Linked DNA regions of Homo sapiens: region 1 is linked to region 2. The links come from fine-mapping of genetic effects on gene expression. A gene starts in region 2. The other region holds a variant in brackets. All regions are shown on one strand. Distances are between the middles of the regions. Region 1 overlaps IMMT (inner membrane mitochondrial protein). Region 2 holds the start of IMMT (inner membrane mitochondrial protein).

Region 1 (4,523 bases), 44 kb before region 2:
TGCCTGTAATTCTGGCGCCGTGGGAGGCCAAGGCAGGTGGATCACTTGAGGTCAGGAGTTCGAGACCAGCCTGGCCAACATGGCAAAACCCCGTCTCTACTAAAAATACAAAAATTAGCCACATGTGGTGGCATGCACCTGTAAGTCTAGCTACTCAGGAGGCTGAGAGGCACAAGAATCACTTGAACCTGGGAGGCAGAGGTTGCAATGAGCCAAGATTGCACTACTGCACTCTACCCTGGGCCACAAAGACAGACTCTGTCTCAAAAAAAAAAAAAAAAAAAGAAAGAAAAAGAAAAAATAGTGGAAGCTGTTAAGATGACAGCTTGGGCTAAGGTGGTAGTAATGGAGTGGACAGATTTGGGATTTATGTTGGATGCAAAACTGGTAGGATCTGTGGGGCAACTGAATATGAGTTGATGGAGGAACAACAAAGCATGATTTGGGCTGGAATAGCTGAGCAGATTGTTCAACTCAGTTTATTTAGAGAGAAACAAGTTGAGGGGCTGGAAGACAGGTTGGAGAGAATAAATAAATCTGTTTGGAGCATGATAAGCATGAAATGACTACTGAAAATCAAGCTGGAGATACCAGGTAGGCTGCTGGATAGGAACCTGAAGCCAAGGCAGAGGTCAGAGCTGGAGATAGACATTTATCAGGTATAGATGGTATTTAAACTTCCAAGTCACGGGACTCAACAAGAACACTTAGAGACAGTTCAGATGGAGAAAACGTTTCAGAACTAATGCCAGGTATGCCACCATTTGAGAGGCTGAGCAGAAAAGGAGGTTAAGGAGTGGCCAGCAAGGTAAGAGAAAGGCCAGAAGAGTATGGTGTCAGGGAGCCTAGGGAAGAAATAGTTTCAAGAAGGAAGGAGTGGCCAGTAGTACTGCTAAGAAGACACAAAGGTGGGATGAGTAGTTAGGTTCCCAAATCAGCCTGTGGACACCTATTTAATAAATGGTGTGCCCAGACAGAGGGCTAAAGAAGCTATTTCACCTGTTTTTTAACCACCAACCACTTAACAACAATAGCAGAGAAAAATATACTCAGACTCCAACAAAGATTCGTTCAGCACTGCTTTAAGGGACAGAGGCTCAGCTCCACTGGAAAGATGAGCTAGATAATCCTGGATACCAGTAGCTTATTCCTTTCTTACACTTCTGCATCTGCTCAACATAAAGGAACTCTGCTCGATCACTCCTTTCCTAGAAGTTCTGATGAGGGGAATGAGGACCTAAGCTCCATTCTAAAGGTCAGCTGGCATGACTTATATTCAATATCCTAAAGCCAATGACTGTCAGTATTTTTTTTTTTTTTTTGAGACAGTCTTGCTCCATCGCCCAAGCTGGAATGCAGTGGCACGATCTTAGCTCACTGCAACCTCTGCCTCCCTGGTTCAAGTGGTTCTCCTGCCTCAGCCTTCCGAGTAGCTGGGATTACAGGTGCGAGCCACCACACCCAGCTAATTTTTGTATTTTTAGAAGAGACGGGGGTTTCGCCATATTGGCCAGGCTGGTCTCGAACTCCTGACCACAAGGGATCCACCCACCTTGGCCTCCCAAAGTGCCGCGATTACAGGCATGAACCACTGCACCCGGCTGAGCCAGTATTATTTCTACAAGTAAACAATCAAGTTAGAGTCACTTTAAATGTTAGGCAACAATTCTCATTTCTCTTACCTTTCTGTCCTGTTCAGCCTGTATTTCACTTCTGTGATGTTCTAATGCTTTTGCTACTGCAGAGTCAAATGCCCGCTTTTCTTCCAGCTTTTGTTTCTCCAAGGCTAACGTGATGTGCTGCTTTTCGGTGGCCTTCTGTTCTGCCAGCTCTCTGTTCAGCTGATCAATACGACGATGTGCATGAGCAATGAGGGAGTTCAGATCATCAGTAGAGAGCTTGTCAGCTAAGCAAAAGAGCATGTTAAAATATTAATGATGTCACTGAAATTATACCTCATTACAAGGTAATCTGCATCAACTGATTATAATTTAAGAGCAGTAAACGAAAGTAAAACTTAGCTAACATGAAAAGAGATTTAGATTCCCCAGTTCAATCAGAAATTGGCTAGTGTCCAATAAGGTATTTTCAACCCCTGGCAAAATTCAGGTAGGCCTTCAGATAATCAGTTGTTTTCCAGGAACCCTCTTTTAATCTGAACTAATTATAAATGGACTTTCTCATTTACTGTAACTTTGCCTTTAAAGACAAAACTTATATATACAATCACTTCTATATTTTCTTTCAGGCATAACTCTGATTAGTTATAACAGGCATCCAATTGAAGATTCTTTTCTGCTAAAACTAAAAATCAAATTCAAATTCTCTCAGACTTTTCCTTAATAAGTTTTTTTACTTTTCTTAAACACATATGATCTAGATTAAATCCCAACACAGCAACCAGAGCTGTCCATCAGAATCACTGCAAAGCTTTTTAAAATACACCCAAAGATTCTCATCTAGGCTTAAACCAATGTTTGTTTTTTTTTAAAATCTCAATCCAAAAATGTAGCAACACATACACAGATTAAGAATTATGGCTCCAGCCAGGCACAGTGGCTCACACCTGTAATCCCAGCACTTTGGGAGGCCAAGGCAGGCAGATCACCTGAGGTCAGGAGTTCGAGACCAGCTTGGCCAACCTGGTGAAACTCCGTCTCTACTAAAAATGCAAAAATTAGCTGGGCATGATGGTGGACACCTGTAATCCCAGCTACTCGGGAGGCTGAGGTAGGAGAATTACTTGAACCCAGGAGACAGAGGTTGCAGTGAGCCGAAATTGCGCCACTGTATTCCAGCCTGGGCAACAGAGCAAGACTCCATCT[C/CAAAAAA]AAAAAAAAAAAAAAAAAAGAGAGAATTATGGCTCCACCGGCCAGACACAGTAGCTGATGCCAATAATCCCAGCACTTTAAGAGGCCGAGACGGGTGGATCACTTTAGGCCAGGAGTTTGAGACTAGTTTGGCCATCATGGTGAAACCCTGACTCTACTAAAAATACAAAAATTAGCCAGGCATGGGGGCACATGCCTGTAATCCCAGCTACTCAGGAGGCTGAGGCACGAGAATTGCCTGAACCCAGGAGGCGAAGATTGCAGTGAACTGAAATTGTGCCACTGCACTCCAGCCTGGTGACAGAGCAAGACCTTGTCTCAAAAAAAAAAGAATTATGACTCCATCACTTCTTAGTCTTTTGGCTAAGATGAAGTGAAGAATTATGGCTCCAACAGCAAAATATGGAATGTAGGAAATTCTATATGACTAATGACTCAATTTCTTAATAAATACATTGAAAAGCAAAAAACAAAAAGGGGCAAGAGATTTATTGACTAAACTCAACATGTGGAACGTCTATGGGTTATCGATTCAAATAAAAACTGTAAAGACTCATTCTATGAAATAATAGGGGATATTTTAACACTGAATGGACATTTGGTGACTAGGGAATTGTTACTAAGTTTTAGGTGTGATAATAGTATGGTGATGTTTTTGAAACATACTGAAAGTATTTACAAGTGAAAGAATGTGATATTTGAGTCTGCTTTCTATATAAGCTGAGGAGGAGTGGGAATAGATGAGACAAAACTGGTCATGTGCTGATGGCTACAAAACTGAGTGATGGGTCCTGGAAGTTCTTTAGTTTTCTTCTTACTTTTTAATGTTTGAAATTCTCCAAAGTAATCAGTTACAATCCATATTACACACACACACACACACACACACACACACACACACACTTCACATCTATAGGATTCCAATCACTTGATGAAACATTTTCATTCCTGAGAGCATTCGGATGCCAAAAATATCCAATTCAGATTTATCATGTGACATAATTCTACTTTATATCTATTTAGATGGCTTTGTGTAAGAATCATAGGCACAACAAAAAGACTTTAGTCTCTTAATACCCAAAACAAAAGACTTTAAACATGAAATATACATAACACTCACCTAAGTCTGAAACACCTACAAAGGAAAAAATAGAACAGTTTGAAAAAAAAGAATGCACATACTTTAGTTATTGATCATTAAACAGAAATATCTAAAAGGAAACAAGAAGGAATCGGAGACTAGTACCAGGAAAAGCTATTTTAATACTGGAAAATGAAATGATACGGCTATTTTCTAAAATTTAAACTGTAAAACAAGACAAATCAAGGTAAATAACATTTTAGAAAATAAAAGAATCATTGATATTAATTGTGGTTTTGGTTTCAAAGGACTTATCTCTGTTTCACAGTAATCAACTTAAATTTTTTGTTTTTTTGTTTTGAGACAGAGCCTTCCTCTGTTGCCTAGCCTGGAGTGCAGTGGTACAATCTCAGGTCACCACAACCTCCACCTGCTGGGCTCAAGCAATCCTCCCACCTCAGCCTCCCAAGTAACTTGGACTAGAGGTGTATGCCACCATACCCGGCTAATTTTTGTACTTTTTTGTAGAGAAGGGGTTTTGCCATGTTGCCCAGGCTGGTCTCAAACTCCCGGGCTCAAGCGATCTGCCTTCCTCAGCCTCCCAAAGTGCTGGGATT
Region 2 (4,000 bases):
GACCCAAAATATTACTTGAGAGAAGCCAAAAGTACAAAGAGCCTCATAAAGCAGCAATGTCAAATGCTACAGAATTAAGGAGATGGTGAGAATAAACCAAAGAATTTTACAAGACAGCAATTTCAAGAAGCTTAGACATCTTGATTCAGAGCTATAAAAGGGTTCATTTTTTATTACCAAGTTTTAATTAGTTTTCTTAATTCCCAAATGGGATCCCAAAAAGTTGACTCTGAATTAACTGAAAAGGAGGTCATCCAGGTGGGCCTGGTCTAATCACATAAGCCTTTTAAATCTGGGTCTAGAGAGGAAAGACCAAAGTAAAAGAAATTTGGAAGTCAGAGAGGCAAGCTCCTGGTAGCCTGCACGAAAGCAAACATCAATGTTATGAATGGCCTCTAGAGGCCTTGAGGCAAGGAACTGTAGGCAGGCTGTAGAAGCTGGGAGCAGTGGCTGGCAAGAGGCAGCAAGAAAAGAAGTACTTCAGTCCTGTAACTGCAAGGGACTGAATTCTGCCAACAAACTGCATGAGCCTGGAAGAGGACCCTGATCTCCAAATGAGAACCACAGCATGGCTAATACTTTGCAGCCTTATGTGACCTGGAGCGGAGAACACAGATCATCCGTGCCCAGACTTCTATCCTACAGAACCCGTAAGGTCATTCATGGGTGTTGTTTTAAGCTGCTAAATTTGTGGTATTTGTTACGCAGCAATAGAAAACTAACACAGGTTCGTTCCACTTTCCTATGGAAGGGGCTGCTTCTGTTACCTAGCAGCAAATAGGAAGAGAAGCGAACTTGAAAAAACAAAGCTTGACTTTTATGATCTCTAACTCACTATTCCTAGGGATTCTGTTCAATTACTGCTTGAGTCACAGTACTTGGTTTGCTATCTACATTTTGCCAAAATATCAACTTCCTGAAAATCATGAGCAGTGGAAACAGGCTTTTTAATTTTCAATTTTAGAAAGTAACTTTGGCAATTACGCAAAACTAGAAGTAACTGGGTATTTAGGCTCCTTGAATGTCAAAGTAGTCCCAGCGCCTGGAGACACAGATCCCTGCCCTAATCTCAGAAATGAGCCACAAGGTCATGACTCCTGTCTTTCCTTGAAGACCAGGAGTTTCAGCTCCACAAATGAAAATCTTTCGCTTTTGTTTGGATTAAGAATAACTCAGAAGTGTTCTCAGCTGCGAAAAGAAAGGCACTCCCTCCCAGATAATTACAACCTTGACCCCTAAAATGTGGACTCTCGCTAGAAGTCCAGGCACCTCCTTATTAAGGATGCAACAAGCCGCCGCTCCGCTCGTCCTGACGGGAACTGTAGTTCTCGCCCGTCGACCTTCAGCACTGAAAACCTATCGCGCGCCCAACCGGCGACCCAGACGCCAGCAGCCAGGATTGGTCCTGGACGGGGGCAGCGCGGCCCTGATTGGACTACATGCCCACGAAGCCGCGCCTCCCGCTACTCTCCACACCCCACCCCGCTGCTGCAATAACCTCAAGTCATCCCAGTCCGGCGAACTCCCTGGTGGCTGCCTAGCTGCCCGCCCGGGCCTCTCCCGACGAGGGTGGCCCTGAGGCTCGCCTTTGTCCTGGAGGCTAGGCAGCGACCAAGGCTCCCCCGTTTTTCGCTGACGGTTCTAGTTCAGCCTCCTCACGCGCCTCCGGGAGCCCCAGTGCTCACCTGGGCGGCGGCGGTCACACCCGATAACTGACAGGCCCGCAGCATCTCGGTCAAGCGGACGGCGCTGCTGGTGGACTCGAGCTGCCGCGGCGGCGCGAGTTAAGTGGAGGCGTGCTTGCGTGTGTGCGTGCCCGCGTCCGCGCCCGGCGCACCGGAAGCACAGCGGACGCCACTGCGCACGCGCGGCCCCTTCTACCGTCCCCGACTCCGCGGCTCTTAGAGGGTGGGCTGTGTCCCGGCTGCGGAAACGCCAACTCCAGGCGATTGGCGCGAAGGAGGCGAAAAGGGCGGATTCCCTTTCCGGGTCGCGCCCGGGCTGCAGGTCCTTATCCGGAAGGGGTTACTAGGTGAACACTGCCGGAGGGAGAGCGCTCTGAAATCCATTCTTCAGCCGCACGTGGAAAATGGACAGCTGTGACTCTTAAAGAGAATTAAAGCAACAAAGCATCTCAGCCTGCTCTATGAGCTGGATATTTCGTAGGAAGGAGCCGATTTGGCGAAAGTTACGTAAACAATGGAATTGTCTCAGTTTGCGCCTTTGTTTCGTTTGACAGCCCTCCAGGGAGTCATAGTGATTGCTGGAGACGGTGAACTAACACTGTGGGGACCCTTGTGCTAAACGTGTCAAGTGGCACAACAAGGATAGGAACACGGGTCCTTTGGACTCCACAGCTTCTGCTCCTTCCAGATTAAGCCACACTGCTTTCTCCAAGTTGTTACTGTAGTAACATCATTTTGGCTGCAGTTTGTGGATGGGTTGGAAGATGGGAAGTCAATGCAGAAGCACCGTTGAAAGTATTCCACTGGGCAGGGCGCGGTGGCTCACGCTTGTAATCCCAGTACTTCGGGAGGCCGAAGCGGGAGGATCGCTTGAGCCCAGAGGTTCGATACCAGGCTGGGCAACACAGTGAGACCTCGTCTCTATATAGAAAAATAAACAAACAAAAAATTTAAAAAGAAAAGTAGGGCCAGGAGCTATGACTCACGCCTGTAATCCCAGCACTTTGGGAGGCCAAGGCGGGTGGATCGCCTGAGGTCAGGAATTCGAGACCAGCCTGGCCAAAATAGTGAAACCCCGTCTTTACTAAAAATACAAAAAATTAGCTGGGCATGGTGGCGGGTGCCTGTAATCCCAGCTACTCGGGAGGCTGAGGCAGGAGAATTGCTTGAGCCCGGGAGGCGGAGGTTGCAGTGAGCCGAGATCACGCCATTGCACTCCAGCCTGGGCAACAAGAGCGAAACTCTGTCTCAAAAAACAAAAGTATTCCATTGATTCTGTAATCAAAATAAAACACGTTAAATATTAAGCATGGTATTAATACTCCATGTATACTCCAGAATTAATATGTTCGTATTAATACTATTAGCATCTTATTGCAATATCGTGGAAACTAACTTTTCTATCTTCTATTGGATTTGCAAAGTATTCCAAGTCTTAACTGGGTAATTTATTACAATATGTATTCTCTCTAGAGGTAGACTGCGCTATGACTTGTAGCATGGAGAGATGGACTTGAAAATTATCTGAAAGCAATAGTTATGTTTGTATATGTTCTATGTTCTATGGTTTTTAGGGGACTACAGTAATTACATATGTTTCATATCTCTTTCACTTAGCTTCCAGAGCAGTCTCCCGTTTTCTTTAGTAATTTTAGCAATTGAATTGCTGCCTCCCTGCCCACTGCTGTCATGCCCAGTGGTGCCGGTGTGATGACTTTTCTAACACCCTTGTCTTTGAACTTCTTAATGCCAGTGAACGCTTTCATCCTGCTTCAGTCATGTGGTGCCCGTGTGATGACTTTTCTAACACCCTTGGCTTTGAATTTGTCAATGCCAGTGAATGTTTTCATCCTGCTTCAGTCATGTACGTCACAGCCACAACTTGCGCCTGAACATCATTAGCAACCTCTCTAGCTTCAAGATCTCAAACCTCAAAATTAGCCTCCCAACCCCTCATAACCTACGTGGAGAGTCCTCACTCTCCACTTGGAAGTTGTCAATATTTTTGCTTTAAAATGTTATCAGGCAGGCCAGGCGCTGTGGCTCACACCTGTAATCCCAGCACTTTGGGAGGCTGACGCGGGCGGATCACCTGAGGTCAGGAATTCGAGACCAGCCTGGCCAACATGGTGAAACCCCGTCTCTACTAAAAATACAAAAATTAGCTAGGCTTGGTGGTGCGCGCCTGTAATCCCAGCTATGTGGGAAGCTGAAGAAGGAGAATCACTTGAACCTGGGAAGCAGAGGTTGCAGTGAGCCAAGATCACACCACTGCACTCCAGCCTGGGGGACAAAGCGAAACTCCGTCTCAAAAA

What was found. PIP is the estimated chance that this variant, and not a neighbour inherited with it, causes the effect. A credible set is the group of variants that fine-mapping cannot tell apart.
Region 1: its variant is the best candidate, but not a certain one, in a credible set for the expression of IMMT in monocytes (Quach 2016, PIP 0.87).

What each region holds. Positions count from the first base shown.
Region 1 is chr2:86,149,615-86,154,137 of GRCh38, forward strand. It overlaps IMMT (inner membrane mitochondrial protein), which reads right to left. Exons shown (of 15, transcript NM_006839.3): 11 at 3,946-3,960; 12 at 1,683-1,906. Among named protein-coding and RNA genes, the nearest start is that of SNORD94, 16 kb to the left of the region's middle. The variant C/CAAAAAA (reference allele first, on the strand shown) is at 2,826.
Region 2 is chr2:86,193,653-86,197,652 of GRCh38, forward strand. IMMT (inner membrane mitochondrial protein) reads right to left here and starts at 1,810. Exons shown (of 15, transcript NM_006839.3): 1 at 1,686-1,810. The coding sequence starts at 1,730. RefSeq lists enhancers at 1,311-1,360, 1,481-1,660, 1,681-1,800.